Linked DNA regions of Homo sapiens. The protein of the gene in region 2 purifies or fractionates together with the protein of the main gene of each other region. This does not show direct contact. Each region holds a gene or a part of one and is shown on either strand. Other genes may lie near its edges.

Evidence for each region.
Region 1: the proteins of EAPP (region 2) and DDX23 purify together in Homo sapiens (affinity purification with mass spectrometry; 4 studies listed by BioGRID and IntAct, with this or other methods). This does not show direct contact.
Region 3: the proteins of EAPP (region 2) and DHX35 purify together in Homo sapiens (affinity purification with mass spectrometry; 3 studies listed by BioGRID and IntAct, with this or other methods). This does not show direct contact.
Region 4: the proteins of EAPP (region 2) and ECD purify together in Homo sapiens (affinity purification with mass spectrometry; 5 studies listed by BioGRID and IntAct, with this or other methods). This does not show direct contact.

The regions. Positions count from the first base shown.
Region 1 is NC_000012.12:48,834,760-48,842,254, forward strand, and holds part of DDX23 (probable ATP-dependent RNA helicase DDX23), read right to left. Parts: intron 5,348-7,495; coding exon 5,254-5,347; intron 5,151-5,253; coding exon 5,085-5,150; intron 3,322-5,084; coding exon 3,183-3,321; intron 2,899-3,182; coding exon 2,765-2,898; intron 2,635-2,764; coding exon 2,522-2,634; intron 2,279-2,521; coding exon 2,135-2,278; intron 2,036-2,134; coding exon 1,810-2,035; intron 1,508-1,809; coding exon 1,362-1,507; intron 1-1,361. UniProt on the Homo sapiens protein: Involved in pre-mRNA splicing and its phosphorylated form (by SRPK2) is required for spliceosomal B complex formation.
Region 2 is NC_000014.9:34,536,253-34,544,605, forward strand, and holds the start of EAPP (E2F-associated phosphoprotein), read right to left. Parts: upstream 3,450-8,353; 5' UTR 3,377-3,449; coding exon 3,303-3,376; intron 24-3,302; coding exon 1-23. UniProt on the Homo sapiens protein: May play an important role in the fine-tuning of both major E2F1 activities, the regulation of the cell-cycle and the induction of apoptosis. Promotes S-phase entry, and inhibits p14(ARP) expression.
Region 3 is NC_000020.11:39,000,319-39,007,813, forward strand, and holds part of DHX35 (probable ATP-dependent RNA helicase DHX35), read left to right. Parts: intron 1-1,411; coding exon 1,412-1,524; intron 1,525-2,453; coding exon 2,454-2,550; intron 2,551-3,430; coding exon 3,431-3,589; intron 3,590-5,827; coding exon 5,828-6,038; intron 6,039-7,495. UniProt on the Homo sapiens protein: May be involved in pre-mRNA splicing.
Region 4 is NC_000010.11:73,164,615-73,172,860, forward strand, and holds the start of ECD (protein ecdysoneless homolog), read right to left. Parts: upstream 3,395-8,246; 5' UTR 3,252-3,394; intron 1-3,251. Other genes in the region: primary cilium assembly protein FAM149B1, read left to right, coding at 3,726-3,772. UniProt on the Homo sapiens protein: Regulator of p53/TP53 stability and function. Inhibits MDM2-mediated degradation of p53/TP53 possibly by cooperating in part with TXNIP. May be involved transcriptional regulation. In vitro has intrinsic transactivation activity enhanced by EP300.

The DNA.
Region 1 (7,495 bases), on a different chromosome or scaffold from region 2:
CCTGCCTCTAATAAAAATACAAAAATTAGCCAGGCGTGGTGGCCGGCGCCTGTAATACCAGCTACTCGGGAGGCTGAGGCAGAAGAATCGCTTGAACCCAGGAGACAGAGGTTGCAGTGAGCTGAGATCACGCCACTGCACTCCAGCCTGGGTGACAGAGACACTCTGTCTCCAAAAAAAATAAAAATAAAAATAAGTCCAGAGGCCAGGCAAGGTGGCACAAGCCTATAATCCGAGCACTTTCGGAGGCTGAGGTGAGTGAATCACTTGAGCCCAGGAGTTTGAGACCAGTCTAGGCAACATGGTAAAACCCTGTTTCTACAAAAAATACAAAAATTAGCTGGGCATGTTCGAACACACCTGTAATCCCAGCTACTTGGGAGGCTGAGGTAGGAGGATATGAGCCTGGGAGGCAACGGTTGCTGTAAGCCAAGATCACACCACTGCACTCCAGCCTAGACAATAGAGCGAGACTCCATCTCAAAAAATAAATAAATAAATAAATAATAAATACATAAAAATCAGAGATTCAGCCAGGTGCAGTGGTTCACGCCTGTAATCCCAGCACTTTGGGAGGCCAAGGCAGGCAGATCAGTTGAGATCGGGAGTTTGAGACCAGCCTGGCCAACATGGTGAAACCTCATCTCTACTAAAAATGTAAAAATTAAGGACAGGCACACTGGCTCACGCCTGTAATTCCAACACTTTGGGAGGCTGAGGCAGGCAGATCACTTGAGGTCAGGAGTTAGAGACCAGCCTGACCAACATTGAGACCCCGTCTCTACTAAAAATACAAAAAAATTAGCCGGGCATGGTGACGGGCACCTATAATCCCAGCTACTTGGGAGGCTGAGGGAGGAGAATCACTTGAACCTGGGAGGAGGAGGTTGCAGTGAGCCGAGATTGCGCCATTGCACTCCAGCCTGGGCAACAAGAGCGAAACTCCGTCTCAAAAAACAAAACAAAACAAAAAACCAAAAATTAGCTAGAAGTGGTGGCACACGCCTGTAATCCCCAGCTACTCAGGAGGATGAAGCAGGAGAATCACCTGAACCTGGGAGGCAAAAGTTGTAGTGAGCTGAGATCGTGCCACTGCACTCCAGCCTGGGTGACAGAGTGAGACTCTGCCTCAAAAAAATAAATAAAATAAATCAGAGACTCCAGGATAGCAAAGTTCTCCAGGTCTTTGCCAGCAACATATACTTCTTCGATATCATGATCCAATTATTCCCTAATATCCAACAAAGAATAAAGAAGAAAGCTTCTGATTATAGACGTAAAACAAAAATCAAACATTCATTTGCCACTTTCACCTTTCCTACCCAGACAAACCCACTCCAGCTGGTGCTAGCTGACCTCACCTGTCAATTTTGGGAAGTGTGGTGATCCAGACCAGCAGAGGGATGAGGAAGGCTGCTGTCTTGCCACTGCCAGTCTCAGCCACACCAATGATGTCACGATTCTGTAGCCCAATGGGAATTGCCTGACGCTGTATAGGTGTTGGTTCCTGCAGTGACCCCAAGAAAGAGTAATAGGTACAGGGAGAGTTATACCACCTGGGCAACCACTGATAGTAGTAAGCACATCTGCTAGCACAATGGAAGGATGCCAAGTACAGTTCACAGAAATAGGGACCCCAAGAAGAAACCTAATCACTAAAAGCCAACACTTCTACCAGAAAGTGACAGAAAAGGTCACATTGGTGCCCACTAGCAGCGATGGCTCCAAATAGTCAAGGAACAAAGTTCTCTATTCCCAAACTAGTGTAGGAACATGTCAGATCTCTTGGGCCAATCTATCCCTCCTTACCTTGTAGCCACACTTATCAATGACCTCCAAGATGTGTGGGGGCAGAGAAGAGTCTTTCCAGGATCGGATGGGATTGGGGATCTTGCCACCTTTGGTGGTGATGCTGTAGTCCTCACGGAAGATCCGCCAGTCCCTGTCCGTCATCTCATCTAACTTTTTCTGAGACCAATGACGATCATCCCAGCGCTGCTTGGCTTCCTTCTTACGAAGTTTGCGGAGTCTTGCCCTGGAGCAGGGTGTGAGGAGTAAGTAGAATCAGTGCCCTCCAACTCCTTTCTGTAGAGCCTCTGGGCTCTGTCCAGCCACCCTAGCCTTGATCACTCACTCCTCCTGCTCCTTTTCTTCCAGGGTTCGCCTCTTCTCCATTAGGTCTCCATAGAAACGTGACTGCTCTCGCTTCTGCTGCTTGAGGTCAATGCCTGCAATGAAGCCTCGCCCTAACAACTGCACCTGGTGCCGTTCTTTGTACCTGGGATTGAGATAGAGGAAAAGAAAAAAGAAGGAGCTGTTAACGGCAGTAGGAAGGAAGGGCAGACTACTAGTATGAAACAGTTCTTCCCAGACAGGGTCTTTCTTCCACCAGAGGGCTGGCTGACTACCAGTCTACCAATTTTCCATCCCAGCTTATCTTACTTCCTCCACCTCCGTAGTCATCAGCTCTCTAGGACTGCCTAGTGGAAAAGACCTAGAACTCAGGCCTGAAGCCACTCACAGGGGGTTGTAGTCAATGGATGTGTCCTCAGATGCATCCCACTCAAAAACAAATTTCCGGTCATTGAGATGTCTCGTTCGGCGCCGCTTTTTGATGCCACCCAGGTAACGCTCCTACCCAGGGACAGAACACAAAGCACATGAGCTTTGAGGCCCAATTCTCACATGCAGAGATCACAATGGCCAAATAACTAAACCTCATTTTTGTGTGGGAGAGAAGTGAAGATGGAGCCAAGGCCTGCACCTTAATGGCATGCAGTTCCTTGCTCTTATCCTTCTCTTCCCGGATCTTCTGCCGCCCTTCCTCATCCTCATTTCCATTGGTCTCCCGTTCCATCCTCTCCCTGCGTTCCCGACGTTCCCGTTCCTGAGGATCTTCTGCAGACCAAAGAAAGCAAAGCTGCAGAAGAGCTCATGGAAGAAAAGAGGAGAGGGAATGGAGGGAATCCAGACGAGGAACCCCAAATGAAGAAAAAAAGGGGTAGACTTATGATATGGGGTAAATGGAGATCTAACAGAAAAATGTTTTCTCATAAACTCCCACCATCCTTCCCCTTTCCAAACTCCAGAGTGAACAGGTTTCTATCTCTCCTAAGAGACACTGTATCTCATCCCACTCTTTCCTCTTCCATCTAGGGGCTACACAGGGTAGAATAACAAACCCAACATCTTCCTGCCCAAGTCTTGGAACTGTTTCCTTTTCTTCCTCTCTTCTTCAAGCATCCTCTGCCGCTCTTCCACCTCCTGCTGCCGTCGCTTTAGAGCTTCAGCCTCTCGTTCTGCTTTAGAGAGGAACTTGGGCTACAAAAGAGATTGGAACTGTCAACAAAGGATCTGGGAGCAGGGTACAATCACATCACTGATGGGGAGATGGCAGGGAACCCAAAAGTATTTGCTCAGGCATTAAGCCTGTTGAGGAAAACACAAATAGGCCTTGGACTCGGTTATGGACTGAACTATGTCCCCTACAGAATTCATATGTTTTTTCAGGCTGGACGTGGTGGCACATGCCTGTAATCCCAGTGTTTTATGAGACCTAGATGGGAGGACCGCTTGAGGCCATGAGTTCAAGACCAGCCTGGGCAACATAGCAGACCTTGTTTCTACAAAAATAAAAAAACTCAGCCAGACATGATGGCATGTGCATATAGTCCCAGCTACTCAGGAGGCTGAGGCAGGAAAATCATATGAGCCCAGGAGTTTGAGGTTACAGTGAGCTGTGATTGCACCACTGTACTTTAGCCTGGGCAAACGAGCAAGACCTTACCTTTAAAAAAAAAAAAAAAATGTGGCCGAGTGCGGTGGCTTGTGCCTGTAATCCTAGCACTTTGGGAGGCCGAGATGGGCGGATCACGAGGTCAGGAGTTCAAGACAAGCCTGGCCAGCACAGTGAAACCCTATCTCTACTAAAAAAATACAAAAAATTAGCCAGGCATGGTGGCACGTGCCTGTAATCCCAGCTACTCAGGAGGCTGAGGCAGGAGAATTGCTTGAACCTGGGAGGCAGAGGTTGCAGTGAGCCGAGATCATGCCACTGCACTCCAGCCTGGGCAACGGGGCGAGACTCCATCTCAAACAAACAAACAAACAATGCATGTGTTATATATATTTTTTGAGACAGACTCTCGCTCTGTTGCCCAAGCTGCAGTACAGTGGTGTCATCATGGCTCACTGCAGCTTCAACCTCCTGGGCTCAAGCAATATCCTTGCCTCAGCCTCCTGAGTAGCTGGGACTACAGGCGCATGCTACCACAGATGGCTAATTTTTAAAATTTTATAGAGATGGGTTTTCACCATGTTGCCTAGGCTGGTCTAAAAATCCCTGGCTCAAGTGATCCTCCCATCTTGGCCTTCCAAAGTATTGGGATTACAGGTGTGAGCCACTGTACCCAGCTCAAAATTCCTATGTGGAAGCCCTAACTCCTAGTACCTCAGAATTTGACTATATGTGGAGACAGGACATGTAAAGAGGTGATTAAGTTAAAATGAGCCCATTAGGCTGGGCACAGTGGCTCACGCCTGTAATCCCAGCACTTTGTGAGGCCAAGGAGGGCAGATCACTTGAGCCCAGGGGTTCGAGACCAGCCTGGACAACGTGGTGAAATCTGGACTCTACAAAAAATACAAAAATTAGCTGGACGTTGTGGCACGCACCTGTAGTCCCAGATACTTGGGAGGCTGAGGTGGGAGGATTGCTTCAGCCTGGGAGGTGGAGGTTGAAGTGAGCCGATATCATGCCACTGTACTCCATCCTGGGCGACAGAGTGAGACTCTGTCTCAAAAAAAAAAAAAAAAAAAAAAAAAAGGGCCTTTTAGGGTGAGCCCTAATCCAACACAAGGGGTACATGTGTACAGAGGGAGGACCATGTGAAGAGCTGAGGAAGAAGACAGCCTTATAAGCCAAGGAGAGAGACCTCAGAAGAAATAACCCTGCTGACACTCCGCTCTCAGACTTCCAGCCTCCAGAACTGTGAGAAAATTAACTTCTGTCGTTGAAGTCACCCAGTCTGTGGTATTGTGTTATGGCAGCCTGAGCCGATGAATGAAGACCCTCAAGTACTTACCTTAGCCTCAGCTTCTTCCTCAGCCTTTTTCTTGGCCAGAAGCTCCTCCAGGGATAATGGCTGGGCCTGAAGATAAAACAGAACTTTAGTCTATAAAGGCTCTCTCCCTTTAAAGATCAACAAAGCAACGCACGAGTTGAAGATGAAAAATATCCTTCCTCTCCTTTACCTTAGGCTTCTTATCACCATGTTCATCCTCTTCATCCTTCTTAGAGTCTCTGTCCTTCCGAGATTTAAAGTCTTTTCCTCGACCAGGAGATAAGCTTTGAGGAAAAGGAACAAGGTCCACATCACTCTTACTTCAGTGCCTGGATGAGGTTCAAGTTGAGCCCCGAAAAGAGAATGGAAGTTTCCCCATGACTCAACAAGACTGGCCCATGGTCATCTATCATGTCTTGAAACTCTCTTAGCAGGCATGGTCATTCTGCCAGCTCTGAAACCTAATTATGGCCCTGTCTTGGCCCCTTTCTACCCAAATCTCCTTTTGAGACTAATCTCTTTTGGGAAGTGGGACTTTACTACTGATGTCAAAAATATTTCCCCTAGGCCAGGCGCGGTGTCTCATGCCTATAATCCCAGCACTTTGGGAGGCTAAGACAGGTGGGTTACCTGAGGTCAGGAGTTCAAGACCAGCCTGGCCAACATGGCAAAACCCTGTCTCTAGTAAAAACACAAAAATTAGCCAGGTGTGGTTGTTTAGAGAAAAATTTTTTTTTTTTTTTTTTTTGAGACACAGTCTCACTCTGTCGCCCAGGCTGGAGTGCAATGGTGTGATCTCAGCTCACTGCAACCTCCGCCTCCTGGGTTCAAGAAATTTTCCTGCCTCAGCCTCCTGAGTAGCTGGGACTACAGGCGAGTACTGCCACCACTGGCTAATTTTTATATTTTTAGTAGAGACGAGGTTTCATCATGTTGGCCAGGCTGGTCTCGAACTCTTGACCTCAGGTGATACATCCACCTCGGCCACCCAAAGTGCTAGGATTACAGGTGTGAGCCACAGCGCCTGGCCCTCCTTAACTCTTTAATATACAATGAATTTAGCCTACATGGCCACCACCACAAGCCAAGAAGATACTGCTATCTATATTCCCTCATCATTTTTCATTCCTATCAATCCCAACAATCCTTTCCCCATACCTGCTCTAAGCTTAATCTACAAGATAATTCAAACAACCCCACTGAGTTTCTGTTAGGAGCATTCTGTCCTCTGCCTTGAATTCTAACCTATACTTTCAGGGCCTGATAAGAACTCTGTATACAGGCCAGGCACAATGGCTCACGCCTGTAATCCCAGCACTTTGAGAGGCCGAGGTGGCCGGATCACCTAAGGTCAAGAGTTCGAGACCAGCCTGGCCAACATGGAGAAACCCTGTCTCTACTAAAAATACAAAAATTAGCCAGGCATGGTGGCGCATGCCTGTATTCCCAGCTACTTGGGAGGCTGAGGCAGGAAAATTGCCTGAACCCAAGAGGCAGAGGTTGCAGTGAGCCGAGATCGTGCCATTGCACTCCAGCCTGGGCAACAGAACAAAAACTCCATCTCAAAAAAACCCCCAAAGATTCAGAGAAGAATCCATAGATAGAAAAGCTTCAGGCTCCCTCTCCCCTCTCCCCTCTCCCCACGGTCTCCCTCTCCCTCTCTTTCCATGGTCTCCCTCTGATGCTGAGCCAAAGCTGGACCGTACTGCTGCCATCTCGGCTCACTGCAACCTCCCTGCCTGATTCTCGTGCCTCAGCCTGCCGAGTGCCTGCGATTGCAGGCGTGCGCCGCCACGCCTGACTGGTTTTCGTATTTTTTTGGTGGAGACGGGGTTTCGCTGTGTTGGCCGGGCTGGTCTCCAGCTCCTGACCGCGAGTGATCCGCCAGCCTCGGCCTCCCGAGGTGCCGGGATGGCACACGGAGTCGCGTTCACTCAGTGCTCAATGGTGCCCAGGCTGGAGTGCAGTGGCGTGATCTTGGCTCGCTACAACCTCCACCTCCCAGCTGCCTGCCTTGGCCCCCCAAAGTGCCGAGATTGCAGCCTCTGCCCGGCCGCCATCCCATCTAGGAAGTGAGGAGCGTCTCTGCCAGGCCGCCCATCGTCTGAGATGTGGGGAGCGCCTCTGCCCTGCCGCCCCGTCTGGGATGTGAGGAGCGTCTCTGCCCGGCCGCCCCGTCTGAGAAGTGAGGAGACCCTCTGCCTGACAACCGCCCCGTCTGAGAAGTGAGGAGCCCCTCCGCCCGGCAGCCACATCGTCTGAGAAGTGAGGAGCCCCTCCGCCTGGCAGCCACCCCGTCTGGGAAGTGAGGAGCGTCTCCGCCCGGCAGCCACCCCGTCCGGGAGGGAGGTGGGGGGGGTTAGCTCCCCACCCGGCCAGCCGCCCCGTCCAGGAGGGAGGTGGGGGGGTCATCCCCCCACCCGGCCAGCCGC
Region 2 (8,353 bases):
GCACATCCACTTCATCCTCAGAGCTAGCATACATTTAAATCAAAAAGAATATGAATATTTAAAAATTAAAATAATTTTAAACTCCCAGCATCTCACTGTCCAACAACAATTTTAAGTATTACATGGTTACATTTGATGTACTTATACATTACATATAGCTATTCTCACTTAATAAGCCAGTTCTGCATATTTCCAATCTTCTTTAATTTTTTTTTTTTTTTTTTTTTTTTGAGATGGCATCTCAGTCTGTGACCCAACCTGGAGTGCAGTGGCATGATCTCAGCTCACTGCAACCTCCACCTCCCCAGTTCAAGCAATCCTCCCACCTCGGGTTCCCCAGTAGCTGGAACTACAGGCACATACCACCATTCCCAGCTGTTTTTTTGTTTTGTTTTGTTTTGTTTAATTTTTGTCGAAATGGGGTTTCGCCATGTTGCCCAGGATGGTTTTTTTGTTTGTTTGTTTGTTTGTTTCTTTTGAAACAGAGTCTCGCTCTTGTCGCCCAGGCTGTAGTACAGTGGCATGATTTCTGCTCACCGCAACCTCCACCTCCTGGGCTCAAGCGATTCTCCTGCCTCAGTCTCCCAAGTAGCTGGGATTACAGGATTCAGAATCCGTCTCAAAAAATACATAGATAGATATATAGATAGATAGATATCCTGGTTGTGATACTGCACTATAGTTTTGTAGTATGTTAACACTGGAGGAAACTGGGGAAAGAGTACACAGGATCTCTCTGTATTATTTCTTTTTTTTTTATTATTTTTTATTTTTTGAGATGGGGGTCTCCCTGTGTTGCCCAGGCTGGAGTGCAATGGTGCCATCTTGGCTCACTGAAACTTCCGCCTCCCAGGCTCAAGCCAACCAACCGCCTCACCCTCCTGAGTAGCTGGGACCACAGATATGCACCACCATACCAGCTAATTTTTTGTATTTTCAGTAAAGACATGATTTCATCATGTTGCTCAGGCTGGTCTTGAACTCTTGAGCTCAAGTGATTCTCCTGCCTTGGCCTTCCAAAGTGCTGGGATTACAGATGTGAGCCACTGCACCAGACCTGTATTATTTCTTATAACTGAATGTGAATCTACGAAAACTTCAAAATAAAATGTTTAATTTTTAAAAACTGAATCACAAAGTGAGAGCTATTTTTTCTACAAATTTTCTTCAATCCTTGTCATTATCTCAACCAAAGTCTCAGTTTTCAGCACTGCTGAGAAAGGCAGTCATACATCATGGACCCTAGATATGCAAGTTAAGTATGCCAAGAATGCAAGGTTCTGACCACTGTTCACTCCAGCCATTTCTCAGGATTGTGTTTGCAGCGAACAACAACCTTGAGGAATGAGATAATGTCTCCTTCCAGGACAAAGAGCAGATGTATTTACTGTCTTCTATGAAAGAGGTGGATTCTCCAAGCTCAAGTAGTCTTTAGCCACGATGCCAACCCACTGAATGTGCAGCATTCTTCTAGGACCCTCAGCGTAATACCTGTAGGGTTGACAAGCAAGAGCAAGCCACACAAACATGATGCTCATGCTGCTTGCTGTGCTATGTGTAGTCTTATCTTTGACCCAGGAGTCTCATGTCTTCGGTCAGCTACCGTGAAACAGTTAACAGGCTACAATGTATTAGTTTATAAACAGTGTAAAATTAAATACTGACAGACACCTCTCTAACACTAATCTCCCTTTTTAAAATAATAACCATTTGGCTCAGAGCCTACAACAGGCAATACTGTCTGATAACATTGTTTTGTTTTTATAATATTTATCTTTACAGTTACCTTACCAGTGGCAACTGTCACAGAATTATAAAGCTTCCTTAAAAAAATGATACAACAGTCCTGGCTCCGTGGCTCAGGCCTGTAATCCTAGCACTTTGGGAGCCCGACGCAGGCAGATTGCCTAAGGTCAGGAGTTCAAGACCAGCCTGGCCAACGTGGTGAAAACCCATCTCTACGAAAAATACAAAAAATAAGCCAGGTGTGGTAGCGCATGCCTGTAATCCCAGCTACCCAGGAGGCTGAGGCAGGAGAATTGCTGGAACCCAGGAGGTGGAGGCTACAGTGAGCCAAGATTGCACCAGTGCACTCCAGCCTGGCTGACAGAGTGAGACTCTGTCTCAAAATAAATAAATAAATAAATAAATAATTGAGACATACATATATACATACCTCCTTTCACAGACAGGACCCATTAACTGAAACTCTTTTTCACAGGGAATCCTGGTATCTATCCTCACTCCCAACAAAAGAAATCTTAACAGCAGTCTGATTTCCCATGCATCCAATGTCTCCCCATGACAATATGAGGAAACATTGTTCTTTTGATTTTTTTTTTTTTTAAGAAATGAGGTCTCACTATGTTGCCCAGGCTGTTCCTTTACTACCAGGCTTAAGAGATTCTCTCGCCTCAGACTCCCAAAGTCCTGGGATTACAGGCATGGGCCACCACACCCAGCCAAAGTTGTTAATGAAAGCATGGCTTTACAGAAAGCTTCTTTAGGCAGAATGAATGTTTTAAAGTTTAAGAATAGGATCTGCTGACAGCTTAAGAAATAACTAAATTTGTGTGGAAATATCTCGGCAAAACAGCTTCAAGTTTCCCTGGTAGAATAAAGCCCACCCTTCTGGAAATCCCACGAACCTTCTTCTGTGCCTATCTCAGGTCAATATTCTCTACAATGCTCTGCCAAGAAATATATACTTTATCTTATTACCCTTATTATACTATAAGCCTCTGGAAGACAAGGACCTTATGATTTATCTCTGTAGCTCAGAGCGAGCATACAACAGTCCCTGTCAAAAAATAAAAATAAAAAAGGCTGTTCAATATTCCCTTATTTCTGTTTATGGCAGTTTAGTCTTCAAGATGGACACTTCACATTAAGTCCTGTGAGCCTCACAACAAACATAGTGTGTTATACTATGTTATATAGGTTATACAATTATGTTATTATAGTTCAATTTTACAGGTGAGTAATCGAGGATAACTGACTTGCCTTCCGTCACTCTGCTACTAAGGTGTAGAGACAGGTTTCGATCTCATTGCTTTTGAAGATTTACACGCGGTCCCCCGTGATTCCGGAATATCCCTCTTCCTACAGGCGACATCGGCACCGCCTCCCCCCGGGACTGCGCGACCCCATCAGGAAAGCCCTTTGGCTTCGCACAAGTAACAGGCACGACAGGCTCCCGAGCCGCTAGGGTCTGCGTAGGCTCGGCAGGCGCAACGAATGGAGGCGACCAAAGCCAGGCCTCGACCCAAATCCTCGGGGGCCAGGGTGGGGCGGGAGCCCACCTGCTCAAAGCCGGCTCCTCGTCGCTAGGCTCTTCAACCGCGTAGGGGTCGTAGTCATCCGGAAGCCGGTTCATGGTGGCCTGCAGCGGCCTACACCGTCCACAAGCAATTTGCAGCGTCTCTGTTTACACTGCAAGTCCAGTCCCTAAAGCGCCCCTGACGCCACTTCCGCCTGAACGTCCCAGTCCCCCTTGCGCGCCCGCGCAGACCGACAGCACCGAGGGAGGCAGGTAGAAGGCGGGGAAGGGGCGGAGCAGGAGCGAAAAGGGGCGGGGACGGGACGGGGGCGGGTCTTAATCCCACCATTTTTGTTTTGTTTTGTTTTTTGGAGACGGAGTTTCGCTCTTGTTGCCCAGGCTGGAGTGCAATGGCGCGATCTCGGCTCACCGCAACCTCCGCCTCCCAGGTTCAAGCAATTCTCCTACCGCAGCCTCCCGAGTAGCTGGGATTACAGGCATACACCACCACGCCCGGCTAATTTTGTATTTTTAGTAGAGACGGGGGTTTCTCCATGTTGAGGCTGGTCTCGAACTCCGGACCTCAGGTGATCCGCCCACCTCGACCTTCCAAAATGCTGGGATTACAGGCGTGAGCCACCGCTCCCGGCCAATCCCACCATTTTCTTCCGCAGCTTCTGCTTACAGGAAAATAGCAGCTACCTTGTCACCAAAAATAATAATGATGGGCACCCTCATAAGTGACAGTCTCTGAGGTGAACATGCTACATGCAGCGTCTCATCACCTACGAAGCAGGAATCTAGACGCTGAGGGACACACAGCCCGAAATCCAATAAGTCCTCAGACACCAGCACCCACATCCCTCCAACCTCGCCTCTAACCCTTATGCCTTCCACACCATGAGGCTCTCAACCTCTCCTTCACACTGTTCACTCCTCAGTCTGACTGCGGCCTCAACAATCTACGAAAAGTTATCTTTTCTCGTCATCTTCCCAGTCCCCACTTTTGCTCAGCCCTCAACTGATCCCACTCGATACCTGAGGAGAACAGGCAGATGACAGCCACTTGAGCTCCATCGGGAGACTGTTTCTAACCCTGTTTCTGAACCAGGAACTCGGGTTCCTGCCTCCTACCGAGACACTGTGGCACTCTCTAAAATGTGGAGTAGCTGTAATAAATCTACTCCTGTATTATGCTTTACAGTGCAGGTCTTAGTTTTTCTTTTTTCTCATTTCTTTTGAAATGGCATCTCGAACAAAGTCCACCAATCCCTTTACAAAAGAATGAACTGCTCCTCTGTGTGTACTTCATAGAAGGTGGAATCGGACAGAAGCAGGTTAGTGACAGTTATTCCTGAAATACAGGAGCAGAGTACAGTCTGTTGTGGTTTCCCGGATTCCGCGCCTAGCTCAGCCAATTAAGCATGAGACATAGGCCATTGAGCCACTTAGTAGTTATGCGAGTGGATAGATTGGTATGTAGAGGGAAAGAGGTCTGCTGTAAAGAACAACACTTGTTTGTCTGTGGGGAAAGAAAAGCAGAATACTTGAGATGAAAGTTGGCATACAAATAGGATACTATCGCCAGTAGTTATATTACAAACATTATCGGCCTTTCTAGTGTGAATGAACATTAGACACATTATTGTCATTCCTAGTTTAAAGTTAAGGTTGCGTGGTTGGATTTTTCCACTATCTTTTTCTAATTTTTCTACCATTTGGAGACCGTAGGCATTTGGGCCTGTCACCCCTTGGATGGGTTCCTAGTTTGTTTACATTTTCCTGAACCCTCCTGAGCGCCCGTTCTTGGTCTAATCCCCAGTCGTGATGATTCCACACTTCCTCAGCCGCATGTTGTCTTGCCTCATTCATGAGCTGGTCAGCGTTTCGTCTCTTTAACTGACATGTTCCCCAGTGCTGTTTGAACTGTTGAGTTTCCGTTGCTGGCTGAGTGCGTTTTGTCCTTCACGTAACCTTCGCTGGTAAAAATAAGCCCATGTGATGTCCACCAGTGGATGAATGCTGGACCGAGAGCCCTAGCTTCTGGATCCAGGTCTAGGCCCTTCATCTGCTGCTCTGTGGCCCAGGGCAGGTTTGCTTGACCTCTGCCTCAGTTCTCGACTCTAAAGGACATACTGACCTACCTCACAGGGGTGTTGTGAGGATTAATAAATGTTGGTACTCTGCTTTGGAAATGTGAAAATGCTGTGTAAATGTTAAGAAATACTAAGTATAGGGCCAGAAGCTATACAGTGTTTCACTTAACCGTTTGCCATTCTGTATTTACCAAGGTGGTCTTTTCTGGGGAAGGAAGTAGAGTGGAAGGTGCATCCCTTGGCCCCTGGTTTACATTATTAGGGTGCTTATTGTAGGAATGCACTCTAAAAAGTGGGCGTAGAATGAAAGCAGCCGTCCAGTGGTCCTCCCTTTTCTGTAGTTTCACTTTTCTTGCTTCAAGTTACAGCAGTCACCTGAAATCTGAAAATACTAAATGAAAAACTCCAGAAACAATTTATGTCTTAAATGTTGTGCTGTTCTGAGTAGCGTGATGAAATCTGTTGCCGTCCTACCTGGAACATTGAGTCATGCCTCTGTCCAGTGTGTCCATGCTGTATACACTGTCCACCCATCAACCAACCACTAAGTAGCTGTCTTGGTTGTCAACATAACAGATCACAAGAAGATTGAGGTTGGGTGTGGTGGCTTACCCCTGTAATCCCAGCACTGTGGGGGTCCAAAGTGGGAAGATTGCTTGAGCCCAGGAGTTCAAGACCAGCCTGGGCAACTAAGCGAGATCCTATCTCTCGAAAAAATTTTAAAACAACTTTTTGGCTGGGCGTGGTGGCTCACGCCTGTGATCCCAGCACCTTGGGAGGCCAAGGCGGGCGGATCACGAGGTCAGGAGATCAAGACCGTCCTGGCTAACACGGTGAAACCCCGTCTCTACTAAAAATACAAAAAATTAGCCAGGCGCAGTGGCGGGCACCTGTAGTCCCAGCTACTCGGGAGGCTGAGGCAGGAGGATGGCGTGAACCCGGGAGGTGGAGCTTGCAGTGAGCTGAGATTGCGCCACTGCACTCCAACCTGGACGACAGAGCGAGACTCCGGCTCAAAAAAAAAAAAAGAATTAGCTGGGCGTGGTGGCGGGTGCGTGTAATCCCAGCTACTCGGGAGGCTGAGGCAGGAGAATCACTTGAACCTGGGAGGCAGAGGCTGTAGTGAGCCAAGATCGCGCCATTGCATTCCAGGCTGGGCAACAAGAGCGAAACTCTGTCTCTAAATAAATAAAATAAAATAAAATAAAATAAAATAAAATAAAATAAAAAATGGCATGTAATATAAAAATGAGGGGAGAACCCTTTTAGGCAGGATTTAACTTTGGCTACAGGTAACTAAAACAATGAGCAGCTTAGACAGGACTTATTTTTCTCACCTACCCAGAATTTAAGGGGTAGCAGTTTGGGGCTGTTGGCCAGGCTATTCACCAGGCGGCCCCTCCTCCGTCTGCTCTACCATGCCAGGTGTAAGGTCTCCCGGCCATGATTGTTGCTTCCAGGTACCAAGGCGGCCGCTACACTCCAGGCCTGAGTCTGACTTCCAGGTAGAAAAAGGGGGTAGGGACAAAGACTTTCTTCAAAAAGTGGCTTGGCCTTTTTATTCTCCTGGAGATGCCCTTTCCGGGGACGTGTGTCTAACTGGCCAGAACTGTGTTGTGTGATGAGGAAGTTGAGCTGTTTTAGCTGGGTGTGTTGATCCTGTGGACAAAATCAGGGTCTGTTAGTAAGACAGGAGTGGCCACTGCAGGATACCCTGCCAACAGCACAGAACGAGTCTGGACCTGAGAAACAGTAAAACTGACCTGTGATTAGAGGTTTCGTTTGTTGTTGTTGTTGTTTGTTTTTTATGTGTTTTTTTTGGTTCTTGTTTTGTTTTTTGTTTTTTGTGACGGAGTCTCACTCTGTCGTCCAGGCTGGAGTGCAATGTCGCGATCTCGGCTCATTACAACCTCCGCCTCCTGGGTTCAAGTTTTTCTCCCGCCTCAGCCTCCGGAGTAGCTGGGATTACAGGAACCCGCCATCATGCCCAGCTAATTTTTGTATTTTTTAGTAGAGACGGGGTTTCACCATGTTGGCCAGGCTGGTCTTGAGCTCCTGACCTCAGGTTATCCGCCCGCCTTGGCCTCCCAAAGTGCTGGGATTACAGGCGTCAGCCACCGCGCCCGGCCCAGAATTTTTTTTTTTTTAATTATTTTACATGAGAGGCCGGGTGCGGTGGCTCACACCTGTAATCCCAGCACTTTGGGAGGCCGAGGAGGGCAAATCACGAGGTCAGGAGATGGAGACCATCCTGGCCAATATGGTGAAACCCCCGTCTCTACTGAAAACACAAAAATTAGCCAGGCGTGGTGGCGAGCACCTGTAGTCCCAGCTACTTGGGAGGCTGAGGCGGGAGAATCACTTGAACCCGGGAGACGGAGGTTGCAGTGAGCCGAGATTGCGCCACCGCTCTCCAGCCTGCTGACAGAGTGAGACGCCGTCTCAAAAAAAAAAAATACATATATATATGTGTGTGTGTGTGTGTGTGTGTGTGTGTGTGTGTGTGTGTGTATAAAACATTAGAAGAAAATCAAATGAGTCCAGAGAGTTTGTTGTGGCCCTAGGACTTGTAACAGGACACGTAAATTCTGGGGCTGAGGCTGCCATTGTGGGGTGGCCTTTGGGGGTTCTATGCGCTATGCGCTGATGCTGAGCAAGCAAAGAGAAGCAAGAGTTTGGAGCAAACAGAGAGAAGCAGGGAGGCTTTCCGTGACCCCCTTGTCTAATATGTTAAGCCCTCAACCCCAGCCTTTTCTCTCCATGCCCTCTTCTCTATCCCTTGGTCCACGTTTTTCCCCCTTCTGCTTCGTATTATTGCTTGTCTGCTCACTGTCCGTCTCCCCGTTCCGTTTCTCTATTGCTTCACGAAAAGACCACCCTCAAAACGTAAGGGCTTTGCAACAACAGTGATCATTCATTTGTATCCCAAGTCCGCAGTTTTGATGTTCTGCTCCCTGATGCCTAGGGTCTCGGCTGGGGACTGAAACCGTTTCCATGC
Region 3 (7,495 bases), on a different chromosome or scaffold from region 2:
CTTTGCACGTCTGCCTTCTGTGAACTGTTTACTCTTTTGGGGCATGGGGTGTCTGTTCCCACTTGTTTGTATGTCACTTCTAGTGTACCTGTGCTGTGCATGTCATAGGGATGCAGGAAGGCTGAAGCAACTTGAAGGGAATTTACCCAAAAGAAAGTGAACAGGAGTACTGTGTGGAATTCTGCATAGCAAAACATAGTTTTGTTGACATGAGGCACTTTGATGTCTGTGCTTATTCTTCTCAATTTTGAGGTTAATATATAACATCCCTGTATTTTGTGGTTAAATCCAGTTTACTCTTTTAAAAGTACCCCTCAGAGCCCCTTCACTTAGCGTTTGATGCCATTCGTTAGCACAGCTCCTGGGCTCCTGGGTTTCCTGGAGCAGGATGGGCATGTTTTGTAAAGGTACATAGGGAAATAAAGACAAGCTTTGTAGTTATGTAGCCAGGCCTCAGGGAAATGAGTAGAGGTGGGGAATGGAAAGGGCACCCAGATTCAAATAATGGAGCACTCCACCCGACGGGATATCCATGCCCCCTCTGCAGTGGGCACCAGCTGCTTCCCATCTGGTGCTCACTTGCCTGCCTGCATGGTCACTTAGCTCTTCTCAGTCTCAGCTTCTCTTTGTACCTTAGGGTCACATTCCCCAAGAGAGGATCTTTGGTGGCGTTTCCTTCCCCCATCATTGGCTGGAGCCCTCAAGACAGGTCTCCTTGTGGGCTGCAAGTGGTGGTCAAGTACCATTAAATAGGATGTGGACACCTGTTTGGCAGAAACTGCCAAGAGACACTTCTCCCAACAGGGTACTGCACGAGTGTTGGGGAAGTACATGATTGATGGCCTACCCCATACAAAGCCTCGCACTCACTACTGTAGGGCGTGTAAAGATGGAGAAGACACTATCCCTGCCATCAAGTGGCCTAAAACCAGTAACAATGGGGCCGGAAACACACCTACTGTTCACAGAAGGAAAAGTTTCCTATCAAATGATCATATCTGTGTTTTCCAGATAGAGTTACCCACCAACCTCATCTAACCTGTACTGAACTTGAGTCACACCTTTGACCTAATTTTTGCTTAAATGAAATACAGAGGATAGGAATAATATAAATAATACTAAAGCTACATGTTAACTCAGATGCTATGCTGAATGCAGTTTTGAAATCTAACCTTTATTATTTTTATTAAAACTTTAGTAAAGACACTGTCATTGAAATGTGATTCCCCACAATTACAGTTAGAAAAATGTGAATTTAAAAAATGTATTTTGCAACCCATAATCTGTATTGCACATATATAATCTTGCTACTCACCTGTCTTTGGCAAGTTTTATATTATTTTTTCTTTCCATGAATCGCTACGAACCTTTTTTTCTAAGAGAAATGAAGAATTAATTTTTTTCTTTTTAGAAATTCCGGGATTTCTTTAATCAAAATGAAACCAGTGATCCAGCAAGGGATACATGTGTGATCCTTACAGTGGAAGGGAGAACATTTCCGGTGGATATCTTTTATCTACAAAGGTTTGATGATGCTTGAATTCTGGATGATGGTGTTTAGAAAACTCAGCCTCTGATGTAGAATGTCAGAACTGCATTTGCTCACAACTCTAAAGGATGGGGAGGAGCATGTTTTGTGTCCCTAGTCATTGGTCTAGAATGTTCTTACCCTGCTCCGGATCACTGCTGAATTTAGTTTAAACTGTTCACACTGACATGCAAGTTTCCGTAAGTCTGTGGCCAGTAGCTCAGCCAGAGAGAGCAAAAGTGGTGAAAGGTTTTGGGGAGGGAAGCTTGATAGTTTTCAGAACTGGGGTTTACAAGGCTGCCTGTCAGCAGGGGCAGTATTGGTGATTTGAATCATTTGGCTCTCAGTTCTCTACATCCCTAGCGAGAAGGCCCAGTTGGCATTTTTAGGAGTAGCCTACTTGGACAAGGAAGGGGCCATCCTAATTCCTGTACTAGTCACTGGACAAAAAAAGACCAGGAGCCTGTTCCAGTGGCTGATAAATCCAGAGTCGTGGACTTGATTTCTGAATCGTTTTGTTGGAGAGCTCATCCATCAGGGCCATCCAGCCGACCCATAGATGCTGCTATTGGTTAGGAGGGAAAATGGGCTGGGAAGAGCGTGGGCTTCAGCACTGGGACCACAGCTTCCGATTTTCACTGGTCTGATGTCTTTGCATACTAAAGATAGCACATCTATTTGTATGGGTATATCATGTTATTTCTTTCCAAATAAAGCTAAAAATCATAGTTGACATATAATTATGGATTATTCTTGAATATTAGATTTGAAAAAAATGAATATTTATTTTGTTTATCCTGTACTAATTACCTACTGGGCAGGCCCAAACTCACTTTGATGAGCTTTGCTGCCAGATTATTAGGGTAATTGATCTGTAATTAATGAGCATATTCTAGTGATGAATTCATCCCATTTGTCTTTTCAGTCCTGTTCCAGATTATATCAAATCAACTGTCGAAACTGTGGTGAAAATTCACCAGACAGAGGGAGACGGAGACGTTTTAGCATTTCTTACTGGCCAGGTAATGCCACTGTACTTCTCTGATGAATAGACATGTTAAGACAGCACCAAAAGTAATACAGAGCCTTGTTACTTTACTCAGTCATGTATTTCATGTTTTGTTGTATTTTGTGGTTCCATAATTGTGTAGAAAATTGATTTGATGTCATTCATCTACCATCTAGATTGTCAGGGACTCGTTAGCCCCTGCCTGTTCTGTCTGCAGAGGGTTAAATGTTTTTTTAAATGTATTAGCTGATTCCAAAATAAACTAGGTAGTTGAGTGAGGGCTATTTTGTTTGCCAGAATTGGATACTACATTAGGTCCATGTCCTGCACACATGTTGCTGCTGTGTACCTCTTTTTCCAGTGACACCTTTACAGCTCATCCTGGAGGTGATAAGTGGCCATATTACTGGTAAAACAACTGAACAGACCCAAGTGCTCGCTGACGGTGGCCAGCACTATTCAGACCTGCCCTCCAACTGTAATCTTTTCCACTGCCAAACACTTTCCATGGTTCAGTAATCTTTTTTGGAGAAAGCTTACAGTGATTTTATATGCTGCAACTTGTCTATATGCATGAGATGCTTGTTTGACACCGTATATGTATGCTGAGTAAAATAGTCATCGTTTTTATTTATTGGGAACTCTTCCATTCATTGCAGATCATACCGAGTTTTTAGTAACTAATAGTGTAGTTGCAAAATTTCACCCATTGTCATCATTGTGTATTAGCATTTAATTAAATACCATCCCAGAGTGGAACATGACGGCACTGAAATTCTTGAATCTGACCAAAATTAAAGTCCAGATCCCAACTTTTATTTTCTTTCAGTATGATAAAATAGCATGCTTTAAATTGATCTCGGTTTCTTTGGTTCCTGGTTCAACGTCTTTAGGAAGAGGTAGAAACTGTTGTGTCGATGCTCATCGAGCAGGCTCGAGCACTAGCTCGCACTGGGATGAAGAGACACCTCCGAGTTCTCCCCATGTATGCAGGACTGCCTTCCTTTGAGCAAATGAAAGTGTTTGAAAGGGTGTCACGCAGTGTCAGAAAGGTGAGACTATCCTGATGACCAAGGGTGTTGGCAGCCGTCTATAATCATAATGATGCTCCTTTACTTGTTTTGAAACTTGCTAAACACAAGGCAGACTTCTAGGTCCATATTTCTGTGTAGTAGATCTAAAAGCACACAATAAATAATACATTGTGAAGATTTCTTTTTTTTTTGAGATGGAGTCTCGCTCTGTTGCCCAGGCTGGAGTGCAGTGGCGCGATCTCAGCTCACTGCAAGCTCTGCCTCCCGGGTTCACGCCATTCTCCTGCCTCAGCCTCCTGAGTAGCTGGGACTACAGGCGCCCGCCACCACACCCGGCTAATTTTTTTTTGTATTTTTAGTAGAGACGGGGTTTCACTAAGTTAGCCAGGATGGTCTCGATCTCCTGACCTTGTGATCCGCCCACCTTGGCCTCCCAAAGTGCTGGGATTACAGGCGTCAGCCACCGTGCCCGGCCTGTTGTGAAGATTCTAAACCTGTCCCACTGAAGGATCACTTTGACAGTAGTTATCAGATCAGGTGACTTCTCTTTTCTTCTCTTCTGCCTTCCTAATATTTCCCACGACACATGCTTACTTTGGCTTAAGGGATTGTTTAGGGGGATTGAGGTCAGTCAGGAGCAATAGAAAAATTGGTACACATGGTTTCTAAATAATTTGTTTTAAGTATCAGCTTGCCTATTTTAAAGGGCCAAGTTTAAATCAATTAATTCAAGGTGTGGCTTAAAAATGTTTAGCCTTGAAGTGAGAGTGAGGAAGGGTGTGGTGGAAAGCATTGGTTTGAAGGAGCTGGCAGGCAGCCAGTCCACCTGGGCCTGACTCTGCCTTTTCCTTTCATTAGATGAGGACTGCACAGAACCAGCCCGAGGACAGCTTTTACTGTAGTAGCTATTTATCAACAGATGGCAGAGAATAGAGCAGGTGAGGGATGGTCTGAGGATCCACTCCCAATTTCAGACCACCTGGAAGAGGGTGCTCAGCCCCTTGACCATTGGGATGGAGCAACATGAGTCTGCCCTGTCAAACATTAATTGCAGCCAGCCAATCAGGAGACCTGGATTCTGCCCCTGAGCTACTATGTGCCTTGGGACAACTGACTTAACCTCGAATCTGAGTTTTTGCAGCTGTAAAACGTAAATAATAATAACTTTCAGATAGGTGGTTTTATAGCATAACATCTTAATCCCAACTACATAAAAATATTAGAAAGATTATTTTATAAAATGATCATTTATAAAATAATTTTTATAAAATGATTTATAAAATGTAAAGTGCCTGAAAAAAGTTCTAACTGCTATATATATGTGTCCCCTGCTACTTAAACCCTTCAGGGGCAGCTCCCAATGTACTGGGAATAAAATTCAAATACCTCATGGTGGCCCAGAGACCACATATGATTGCATATCTGCCTCCCTCTGCAACCTCATCTTGTACTTTGTATTTTGGCTGCACTGGCTGTTTCTCCTTCCTTTGAACTGTTTCTTATTCTTGGATCTCTATAGGGTTGGCTGCTGCTTGTTACTCAGGTCTCTGCTCAAAATCTTTCACAGAGGCTCTGCCTGGCCAACAAAAGTAAAGTAGCATGCCCTATTATTACAATAATATATAATATACATGTTATATACTACATCATATCATATTGCCTCATTGTGTTAATATTTTCTTTATAGTATTTGTTGTTCTCTGAAATTATCTTCTTGTTTATGTTCAGCATGTCTTCACCCTAAACACTCAAACTAGAATGTAAACTCTGGCAGAGCAGGGGCCTTGTCTGTCTTGTTTATCCTACATCCCAGCACCTTGAACAGTGCTTGGCAAAGTGCACACCCTCAGAAAGTAATCATGATATGAATGAATAAATGACTATACCTGCGCAAGATGGAGGGTGATTTACTTTGGTTATGCCAAAGGGAAAAACTAACAAATGCTAGGCTCTGATCACTTTATATATTAATTGTATATAGTCCCTTCAGTAGCCCTAGGGGAGGTGGTAAATCTTATTATGTAGATGAGGAAACAGGTTCAGGAGGTTGAGTAACTTGTCCAGGGTCACATGATTAGGGAGAATTCAAACCCAGGGCACCCCCTGACTTGGAAACTCACAGTCTTTCTAGTATATTAAACTGCCTCTCACAGATTCTGCAATGTTGGAAATGTTAAATCTTTTAGGATTTTTACGAGTTTGTTAAAAGCAAAAAGAATAAAATGAGTTTTATTCTTCTTTCTGTGGGGAACGTAGGTGATAGTGGCCACCAATGTGGCAGAAACCTCTATCACAATCAGCGGCATTGTGTATGTGATCGACTGTGGCTTTGTGAAACTCCGAGCCTACAATCCCAGGACAGCTATTGAATGCTTGGTGGTGGTGCCAGTCTCCCAGGCATCAGCTAATCAGCGAGCAGGACGTGGTGGTCGTAGTCGCTCGGGAAAATGTTATCGCCTTTATACAGGTTAGTGTGGCTTTCCCTAAGGGTTTTTGACTTTCTTATAGTCAGCCTGGGCAACAGAGTGTAGCAAATGTTTACTCCTAATGGTAGAACTTAACATAAAATACAGGCCTTCCTCACAAGGCCCTGTGTAATCAGATCCCCACTGCTTTCCTCACTCTAAATATGGTGTTTCTTTGTTACTAGTCCCCATTGGCCAAAGCTGGCCTGTGAGTGACTGCTTATTTGCTATCCTGTTCTAACCTAACATCTGGGCACAGGCCTGTGTAGCCATTTGTCCCTAGGGTGTGGGCTGTGTGTCCTGGAGCCTGTCTTTCTTGCCTTTCTTTCTTGACTTAATGTGCTGTTTTTGTATTCCAAGATCCCTGAGTCTTGCGGAGCCTCACATTGGGTTCCCCTTTTACTTCTGGTTCAGAGCATCTTTGCCAAGTGAAAATGGAAGGTCTGTCCGGAGACTCATTCATAGAAAACAAATAGTTGGTGAGCTCCTCCTCTGTGCTGTGCATCATGCTAGGCTCTGAGGGAACAGAAGGCAATTTTAATACTGTCTCAGCCTTTCTGGAGCTTTCTATCCAGCTTGAAGACAGCCTTACCTATAGACAGTGATGGACCCAGAGCTGCTCTTTCTCTGCACTTCTCTTCTGTGGGGAATGCTGCTGACATTTTCCCCAGTTGTCCAGACTCAATTTCCAAGTCATTGTTAATTCTCTTCTTTATCCAGTATCCATCTGCATTCACTTAACCAGGCCCAGGGTTTTTTATTTTGTTTTGTTTCTTCTGGTGTGGCTGCCCCTAAAGAAGGTCCAGGGGTTTTAGCTCTGCCATTTGTCTCTTCTTTTCCTTTCTGGTTATTATTGTCCTTGTTCAGTCTTTGATGTTGATCTTTCTTTTAGCAGATGTTTGCAGAGCACCTGCTGTATGCTGGCCACGGTGCTAGAGCTTGGAGATCTGGGGCTAGTAACCATGGTCTGTGGCCACAGTGACTGACAGTCTGGTGGTGGAGGTAGACCTCAAAACAGATCAGCATATTATGGTATGATAGGGAGCCATAAAGAATCGGGAGCCTTGGAAGCAGAGAGCAGAGGCTTTTCCTTGGGCTGTTTTCCCTGCCCAGCAGATCTTCCTTATCTTTCAAATCCTCTCTCAGATGGCAGTTCCCTCATGAAGCTACCTTAGATGCCTTCTCCTAGAAGCTGGTGTTATCCTTCTGGGGATTTGGGGAGTACTTCACAACCAGGGTGTTGTTTGAGCCTGATCTTACTGGCAATACAGTCCTTATCTAGGCGAAGAGGTGATTGGGGAGATTCAATTTCAGCGCACCAGGCAGAGGGAATGGAAGGTACAAGTACTTGCAGGGAAGGAAGTGGGTTTGGAACATTCACAGAAGGGAGGGAATAGGCAGAACCCAGGGCCTGAGGACCAAGGGCAACCACTGAAGATGCTAAGAAGGAATGACTAGA
Region 4 (8,246 bases), on a different chromosome or scaffold from region 2:
ATGCCACCATGCCCAGCTAACTTTTTTTGTATTTTTAGTAGAGGCAAGGTTTTGCCATATTGCCCAGGCTGGCCTAGAACTTCTGAGCTCAAGCAGTTCTTCCACCTTGGTCTCCCAAAGTGCTGGGGTTATAGGCATCTGGCCTAATATTATTTTTAATGACCCTTTACACTTAAAACTTTATCTTTAAAATTACGTTAAAAGGAAACCTTGATATAATACAGTGAATAGAAATCTAGTATCACATTCCCCAATTAGTAAGTATGTAAGAATAAAATCTTTACTTTTTATATTTTTCCTATTTTGGAAGTGAAGAATGAAATTTTTAATGTTTGCCCTTGTACTAGCAGTGGTATGTGTAATATATTTCGAGAAACACTGCACTAACACCTACTGTTTACATACTATCAAAAACCCCAGTTCTGCCACTAATTAGTTGTGCCACTATGGACATTTCACTTTCTCTTTCTGGGTTTTTTTCTTTAATTTAGGATAAGTTATCTACCATCTCTAAAATCTCTCCCTGCTTTAAAATTTTGTTATTTAAACTCTAAAGTACAATCTGTCTTGCTCTACAGAATGTACATCTCTCTCTTTTATGAACATTGTATGGCGTAGAGGAATTCAGAACTACAAAACATTCATGTCCTGTCATTTTACCTCTGTCCTAAATTTGCCCCTTTTTCAAGTCTCATGGGATGGTAGGTATATCTTTCTTTTCTTTTTTTCTTTTCTTTTTCTTTTCTTTTTTTTTTGAGATGGAGTCTCGCTCTGTCGCCCAGGCTGGAGTGCAGTGGAGTGATCGCAGCTCACTGCAACCTCTGCCTCCCAGGTTCAAGCGATTCTTTTGCCTCAGCCTCCCGAGTAGCTGGGACTATAGGCGCACGCCACCACACCTGGCTAATTTTTGTATTTTTAGTAGAGACGGGGTTTTACCATATTGGCCAGGCTGGTCTCAAACTCCTGACCTCATGATCCACCTGCCTCGGCCTCCCAAAGTGCTGTTTTTTTTTTTTAATTTTTAAGGGTAAATAGTAGGTGTATATATTTATGGGGTACATGAGATATTTTGATACAGGTATACAATGCATAATAAGCACCTCAGGGTAAATGAGATATCCATTGCCTTAAGCATTTATCCTTTGTGTTACAAACACTCTAATTATACTCTTTTAGTTATTTTTATTAAAAAAATTTTTATAGCCAGGACATGCTCTCATCTGAACTTCGTTATTTTTAAATGTACAATTAAATTATTATTTACTATAGTCACCCTGTTGTGCTACCAAATACTAGTTTTCATTCACTCTATTTTTTTTGTACCCTTTAACCATACTCCCCCACAAACCCTCTGCAACCCTTCCCAGCTTCTGGTAAACCATCCTTCTACTTGCTATCTCCATGAGTTCAACTGTTTTAATTTTTAGCTCCTACAAATTAGTGAGAACATTTGAAGTTTATCTTTCTGTGCCATCCTTATTTCACTTCCATCCAGTTCCACTTGATCTTCAGTTCCATCCATGTTGTTACAAATAACAGAATCTCATTTTTTTTTTTATGGCTGAAAAGCACTCCATTGTGTGTATGTGCCACATTTTCTTCATTATCTGTTGATGGACACTTAGGTTGCTTCCAAATCTTGGCTACTGAGAATAGTGCTGCGATAAACATGGGAGTGCAGATATCTCTTTGATATACTGATTTCCTTTCTTTTGGGTAAATACCCAACAGTGGGACTGCTGGATCATATAGTAGCTCTATTTTTAGTTTCTTGAGGAATCTCCAAAACTGTTCTCCATAGTGACTGCACTAATTTACATTCTCACCAACAGTGTTTTATCCAAATCCTTGCCAGCATTTGTTATTGCCTGTCTTATGGATAACAGCCATTTTAACTGGGGTGAGATGCTATCTTATTGTAGTTTTGATTTGCATTTCTCTGATAATCAATGATATTGAGCACCTTTTCATAAACCTGTTTGCCATTTTTATGTCTTCTTTGAGAAATGTCTATTCAGAGTTTTTATCCAATTCTTAATCAATTATTAGACTGCTTCCTAGAGAGTTGTTTGAACTCCTTATATATTTTGGTTATTAATCCCTTGTCAGATGGGTAGTTTGCAAATATTTTCTCCCATTCTGTGGGTTCTCTCTCCACTTTGTTGATTGTTTCCTTTGCTGTGCAGAAGCTTTTTAACTTGATGTGCTCCCATTTGTCCATTTTTGTTTTGGCTGCCTCTGTTTGTGAGGTATTACTCAGGAAATCTTTGCCCACTCTAATGTCCTAGAGAGTTTCCCCAATATTTCCTTTTAGTAGTTTCATAGTTTGAGGGCTTAGATTTAAGTCTCTAATCCATTTTGACTTGATTTTTGTATATGGTGGGAGGTAGTGGGTCTGGTTTCATTCTTCTGCATACGGGTATCAGTTTTCCCAGTATCATTTATTGAAGAGACTGTCTTTTCCCCAATGTATGTTTTTGGTACCTTTGCTGAAAATGAATTCACTGCAGACATATGGATTTGTTTCTGGGTTCTCTATTCTGTTCCTGTTTTTATGCCAGTGCCATGCTGTTTTGGTTACTATAACTCTGTTGTATAATCTGAAGTCGGGTAATGTGATGCTTCCAGTTTTGTTCTTTTTGCTCAGGATAGCTTTGGCTATTCTGGCTCTTTTGTGGTTCCATATAAATTTTAGGATCTTTTTTCTATGACTGTGAAGAATGTCACTGGTATTTTGATGGAGGTTGCATTGATACCTCTTAATTTTCTAAGGGTTTTCCTTATCTCTTAATTTTCTAAGGGTTTTCCTAAATAAGAGTACTAGTTTATTCTTGCTGCCAGGTGATGCTTGGTAAAGAAAGAAATGGCGGTGGATGGACCACCCTAACTCCATGATTCCAATCTTACTCAGCTTTCTAAGAGACTCGTAAGGAACCTGCTTCTTCTTATCCAGACACCCACTCACCACAGTCTAACCAAATCATCATTTTGCCTTTCAACCCAGAGGGACAGACAGTAATTTTACCCATCCACCCCATAACGCCAAACACACGTCATCATGCAGAATTTGGTGTCAGAACTGGAAGGGACTCTATGATCACTCAGGCTAATACCTCACTGTACATATGAGAAAACCCAGAGTACAGAAAAAGAAGCGACCAAGCAGCAGGGGCTTGACTTGGAGTCTAGTGCTCTTTCCCCAGTCTAGGCTCCCTCCTGCCATCTAACAAAATGAAGCCAATTTCTCTTACGGTTCTAGGGCCTCTCCTTCGCGTCTCTGCTGTGGCACCTTTCCTTAGCCGCCTCTCCGACTGCGAGAGCTGATCGAGAGCTGCCACCGGCCGCCGAAGCCTGGATCAGGCTCTGTCCCGACGCCTGACCGGAACCTGAAGCCAGCGGAAATCCTGAGAGAAAGTCTGAAACCCACTCAGTCCCCGAAACCTTGTGTGTCGTCACTGCTGTGCGTCGGCGGGAGCATTTTGCGAGTGTCCGGGGGCCTTCGTCACTTCCGCCCCCGCGGCAAAGCAGGGAGGTCGGAGGACTGGAGAGGTGGGGACCCTGGGGAGGTGGCTGCTCGGAGTCTAGGTGACGGGGCGAGACGGGGCCGGTAGGTGGCGGGAGGGGCCGGGCCGGAGCCGGCGGGAGGGCCAGGCCCGGAGGCCCCCACCCTGGCGTGCCTGCCCCGGCCGCGGCTGAGGAGGAGGAGGAGGAGGAGGAGGAGGAGGATGATCTCCAGATACACTCGGAAGGCGGTGCCACAGAGCTTGGAGCTGTGAGTGGACTGCTCAGCCACCCCAGCCGGGGCGGGCGGCGGGCGCTCTGGGGACCCTCCTTGACCAGTCCTTCGTTCCTTTCCTTTCCCAGGGCTGGGGAGAGATTTTTCTTCGGAATTCTCTCCTCTCAGCCCTGCTGGACCCTGCCCCTTCTTCCTCCATCTCCAGCTGAGGGCGTGTCGCCCTTCGTCTGAAATTCCTGAAATCAAGCACTGGGTCTGCTGAAGCATTTGTAGCATCCGCAGTGCTTCAGGTCCCATTGTTAATGGCCATGGTAGCTCGAGAAGTTATTAATAGCTAACTGAGGGCTCCAGGAAAGTGCTCACTTGACACTGTGCAAAGCTATTTACATACATTTGCTCATTCCTATCAATGATATCAGATTGGGAACATTATTTTGCACATTCTACAGATAAAGATCCCAGAATTAAAGATTGTAGCATGCCAAAGATCACACAGCTTGAAGGTGGTAGAGCTGAGAGGTACAAACCTGATGTCGATCTGATTCCGAAGCCTGTGGTCATAACCATCACACATACTGCCTCCCCACCTCTGCAATTAAGCACCAGAATCCATAAAGATCAGTTTTGCTTTTGAGACTTTAAAGAGCAAATATTTCTGGCTTTAAAAAGATCCACCCTCACGGCCGGCCGTGGTGGCTCACGCTTGTAATCCCAGCACTTTGGGAGGCTGAGGCGGGCGGATCACTTGAGGCCAGGAGTTCGAGACCAGCCTGGCCAACATGGCGAAACCCCATCTCTACTAAAAATGCAAAAAAAAAAAAAAAAATGGCCGGGCATGGAGGCGGGGGCCTGTAAACCCAGCTACTTGGGAGGATGAGGCAGGAGAATCACTTGAACCCGGGAGGCAGAGGTTGCAGTGAGCAGAGGTCACGCCATCGCACTCCAGTCTGGGTGACAAGAGTGAAACTCCGTCTCAAAATAAATAAATAAATAATAAAAAAATAAAAAGAGCTGCCCCCTACCCTGACCGAAGTGGTGTATAATAATTTAGAAAGTAATAATAGTGTCATACATTTATTAATGCTTTACACTTCCAAAAGGGCCTTCACTTTTTTTTTTTTTTTGGAGACAGGGTCTTGCTCAGTTGTCCAGGCTGGAGGGCAGTAGTGCAATCCTTGCTCACTGCAGCCTCCACCTATGGGCTCAGGTGATCCTCACAATGTAGCCTCTTGAGTAGCTGAGACTACAGGTGCACACCACCACAACTGGCTAATTAAAAAAAAATTTTTTTTTGGTAGAGACAGGGTCCCACTATGTTGCCCAGGCTGGTCTCAAACTCCTGGACTCAAGCGGTTCTCCCACTTTGGCCTCCCAAAGTGTTGGCGTGAGCCACCATGCCCAGCTCACTTCACTTTTTGATCTTAACAACTCTGTAAAGTGGGTATGATTATCTTCAGTCTTTCAGAAGATGAAATTATATCAGAAATGTTACATATTTTAAGATTATATAGCCAAAAAGTCAGGAGTTGAGCTTGGGCTTTAACCCCAAATTCCAATTTTTTTTCCTTCATGGAGCTATATAATTTTAGCAACCATAAATTTATTAATTAAATATTAACTTTTCCTTTCATTTAGCTATGTAATTTTAGCAACCATAAATATATTAACTATTAATATTAATTATTAACTATTTAATTTATTAAATATTAATTATGCACATACATGATAATTGCAAGCATGCTATTTTGAATCATTCTTGGGTTTCTGGCTAGGCTGTCTTCTAGCCACGTGACTTTTAGGCAAATTACTACATCACTGAGCCTTCGTTTCTGCAATATAGGAGTAACACCTTATCCAAAAGCTTATTTAAAATGATGGTGTGGACCCCCACACCTGTAATCCTAGCACTTTGGGAGGCCAAGGTGGGCGATTGCCTGAGCTCAGGAGTTCAAAACCAGCCTGGGCAACATGGTGAAACCCTGTCTCTACTAAAAATGCAAAAAATTAGCTGGGCATGGTGGCACATGCCTGTAATCTCAGCTACTTGGGAGGCCGAGGCATGAGAATTGCTTGAACCTGGGAGGCGGAGGTTGCCGTGAGCCGAGATCACACCACTGTACTCCAGCCTGGGTGACAGAGGAAGACTCTGTCTCAAATAAATAAATAAATAAATAAAAATAAGAATAAAGTGATGGTGTGGAGCTTGACACATATACATCCTCAATAAATGGTATTTTCCTTGTCCCTTCGCACTTTTACTTGGGATACAATAGGCATACAAAGAAAATAAGTCTAAAACCTCTCTTTGCCTTTTAGAAGCTTATTATTTATTAAGGAATAAGATATCTACATGGTAGCAGTTTAGTTCCTAGTAAACTCTTTGGGAACTAGGAAGAAGAAACAGTCATCTCTTAGATTTGGGATGTGTTGTTCCTACTTAAAAAAAAAATTGTGAGGAAACTGTCTTTTCCCAATAAAGTGACTGAGGTTTAGCTAAAAATCTGCTTTTATGATTAATTCCAACCATTCTGAAAGTTAAAAAAAATCTTGTATGGAAAAAAATGATAGGCACTTGTTGGGCCAGAATTATTATTAACTAGTATAGTTGTATCAGTTTTCTTTCTATTTTTTTTTTTTTTGAGACGGAGTCTCTGTTGCACAGGTTGGAGTGCAGTGGTGCCATCTTGGCTCAGTTGCAACCTCCACCTCCTAGGTTCAAGTGATTCTTCCACCTCAGCTTCCCAAGTCACAGGACTACATGCCCAGCTAATTTTTGTATTTTTAGTAGAGATGGGGTTTCACCCCAGGCTGGTCTTGAACTCCTGGACTCTGTCTGCCTCGGTCTCCCAAAGTGCTGGGATTATAGATGTGAGCCACCGCGCCTGGCCTACTTGTTCTTGATTGTTGATTTGATACTCCCTATAAGGCCCAAAAGATGATTCTGTAGCTGGAGTCAGGATGAAGTGAATAATGAAGATAATGAAGATAAAATGTATCTTAATGGGAGCAAATTCAAAGCAATTTTTACTTTAGATGTTATAATAATGATAACCTGCTTTGAAGCCGTAACTTTAGTTTTCTACCTAGCCATTAAAAATTATAATTGTTGAAAAGAGTATGGGAAAGGAATGATTTTCAACATACAGCTTAACATTTTTTAATGAAAAATTTCAAACATAAACATATAGAGAATAGTATCATGCACTACCTGTCACCCCACATTCAACAGTTAACAAAGTTAATATATTTGCTTCATCTATCTTCCTTATCCTTTTCTTTCTTTTTTTTTTTTTTTTGAGACAGAGTCTCACTCTGTCGCCCAGGCTGGAGTGTAGTAGTGCCATCTCGGCTCACTGCAAGCTCCGCCTCCCAGGTTCACGCCATTCTTCTGCCTCAGCCTCCCGAGTAGCTGGGACTACAGGTGCCCGCCACCATGCCCAGCTAATTTTTTGTATTTTTAGTAGAGACGGGGTTTCACCGTGTTAACCAGGATGGTCTCGATCTCCTGACCTCGTGATCTGCCTGCCTCAGCCTCCCAAAGTGCTGGGATTACAGGCGTGAGCCACCGCACCTGGCCTCCTTATCCTTTTATTAACTTCTCTGCACCTCTCTGTGAAATAACGAAAGCAAAACTGCAGATACTGCCATTTCACCCCTATATATGTCATTATGCATCTCTAAAAATTATGGACATTTTTGTATGTAGTCATAGTGCCATTATTAAATTTAATGATATTTTTTGTTATCTAATTGTCAATTCATAGATTTCCCTGGCAGACTAAAAAATGTCTTAAGTCTCTATTTCATAGCTTGAATTTGTATTTCTTATCCTTTCCACTTTTTCAAAGACAAGCTCTTGGTTGTAGGACCACTGAATGAGAGACATACAGGTAAGTCTGCACAAATTGATCTCCACAATTTGAGAAATAATTTAAAGTGCAAGCTCCACTGACTGGGCTCTTAGCTTTATCTTTATATAGAACAATGGTACAATTCACTAAAATCTCAAACTCTTCATTTCCTTCTAGAGGCCTTCCTCTGAGAGCCAGATTACTAGGATTTGAATCTTGGCTTCATCGCTTACTAACCAAATGACCTTAAGCAGGTTACTTAATCCCTCTGTGCCTTAGTTTCCTTTGAAATGAGAGTATTTGAGATTTATGATAAACATTTGCATATTAAAGACCTGGAAGATCTCTTGTAAAGAAATCTGTGTAACTTTGTTCAACCTATTACAGTTCCTGAATGTATTTGACTACAGAGTTTTGTGAGGAAAGTCTACCGCAGATTACTAGGAACATATATTGATTGACCCCATAGATTACTGGAACATATAATGATTGACCCCATAGCTTAATCCAGTGCATACATTGGAGTCTCTAGAGCAGCAATATTCAATACAAATATGATATAAGCCACATATGTAATTTAAAATTTTCAGGTGGTCACATTAAAAAAGAAAGGTGAAATTGGCCGAGTGCAGTGGCTCATGTCTTGAATCCCAGTACTT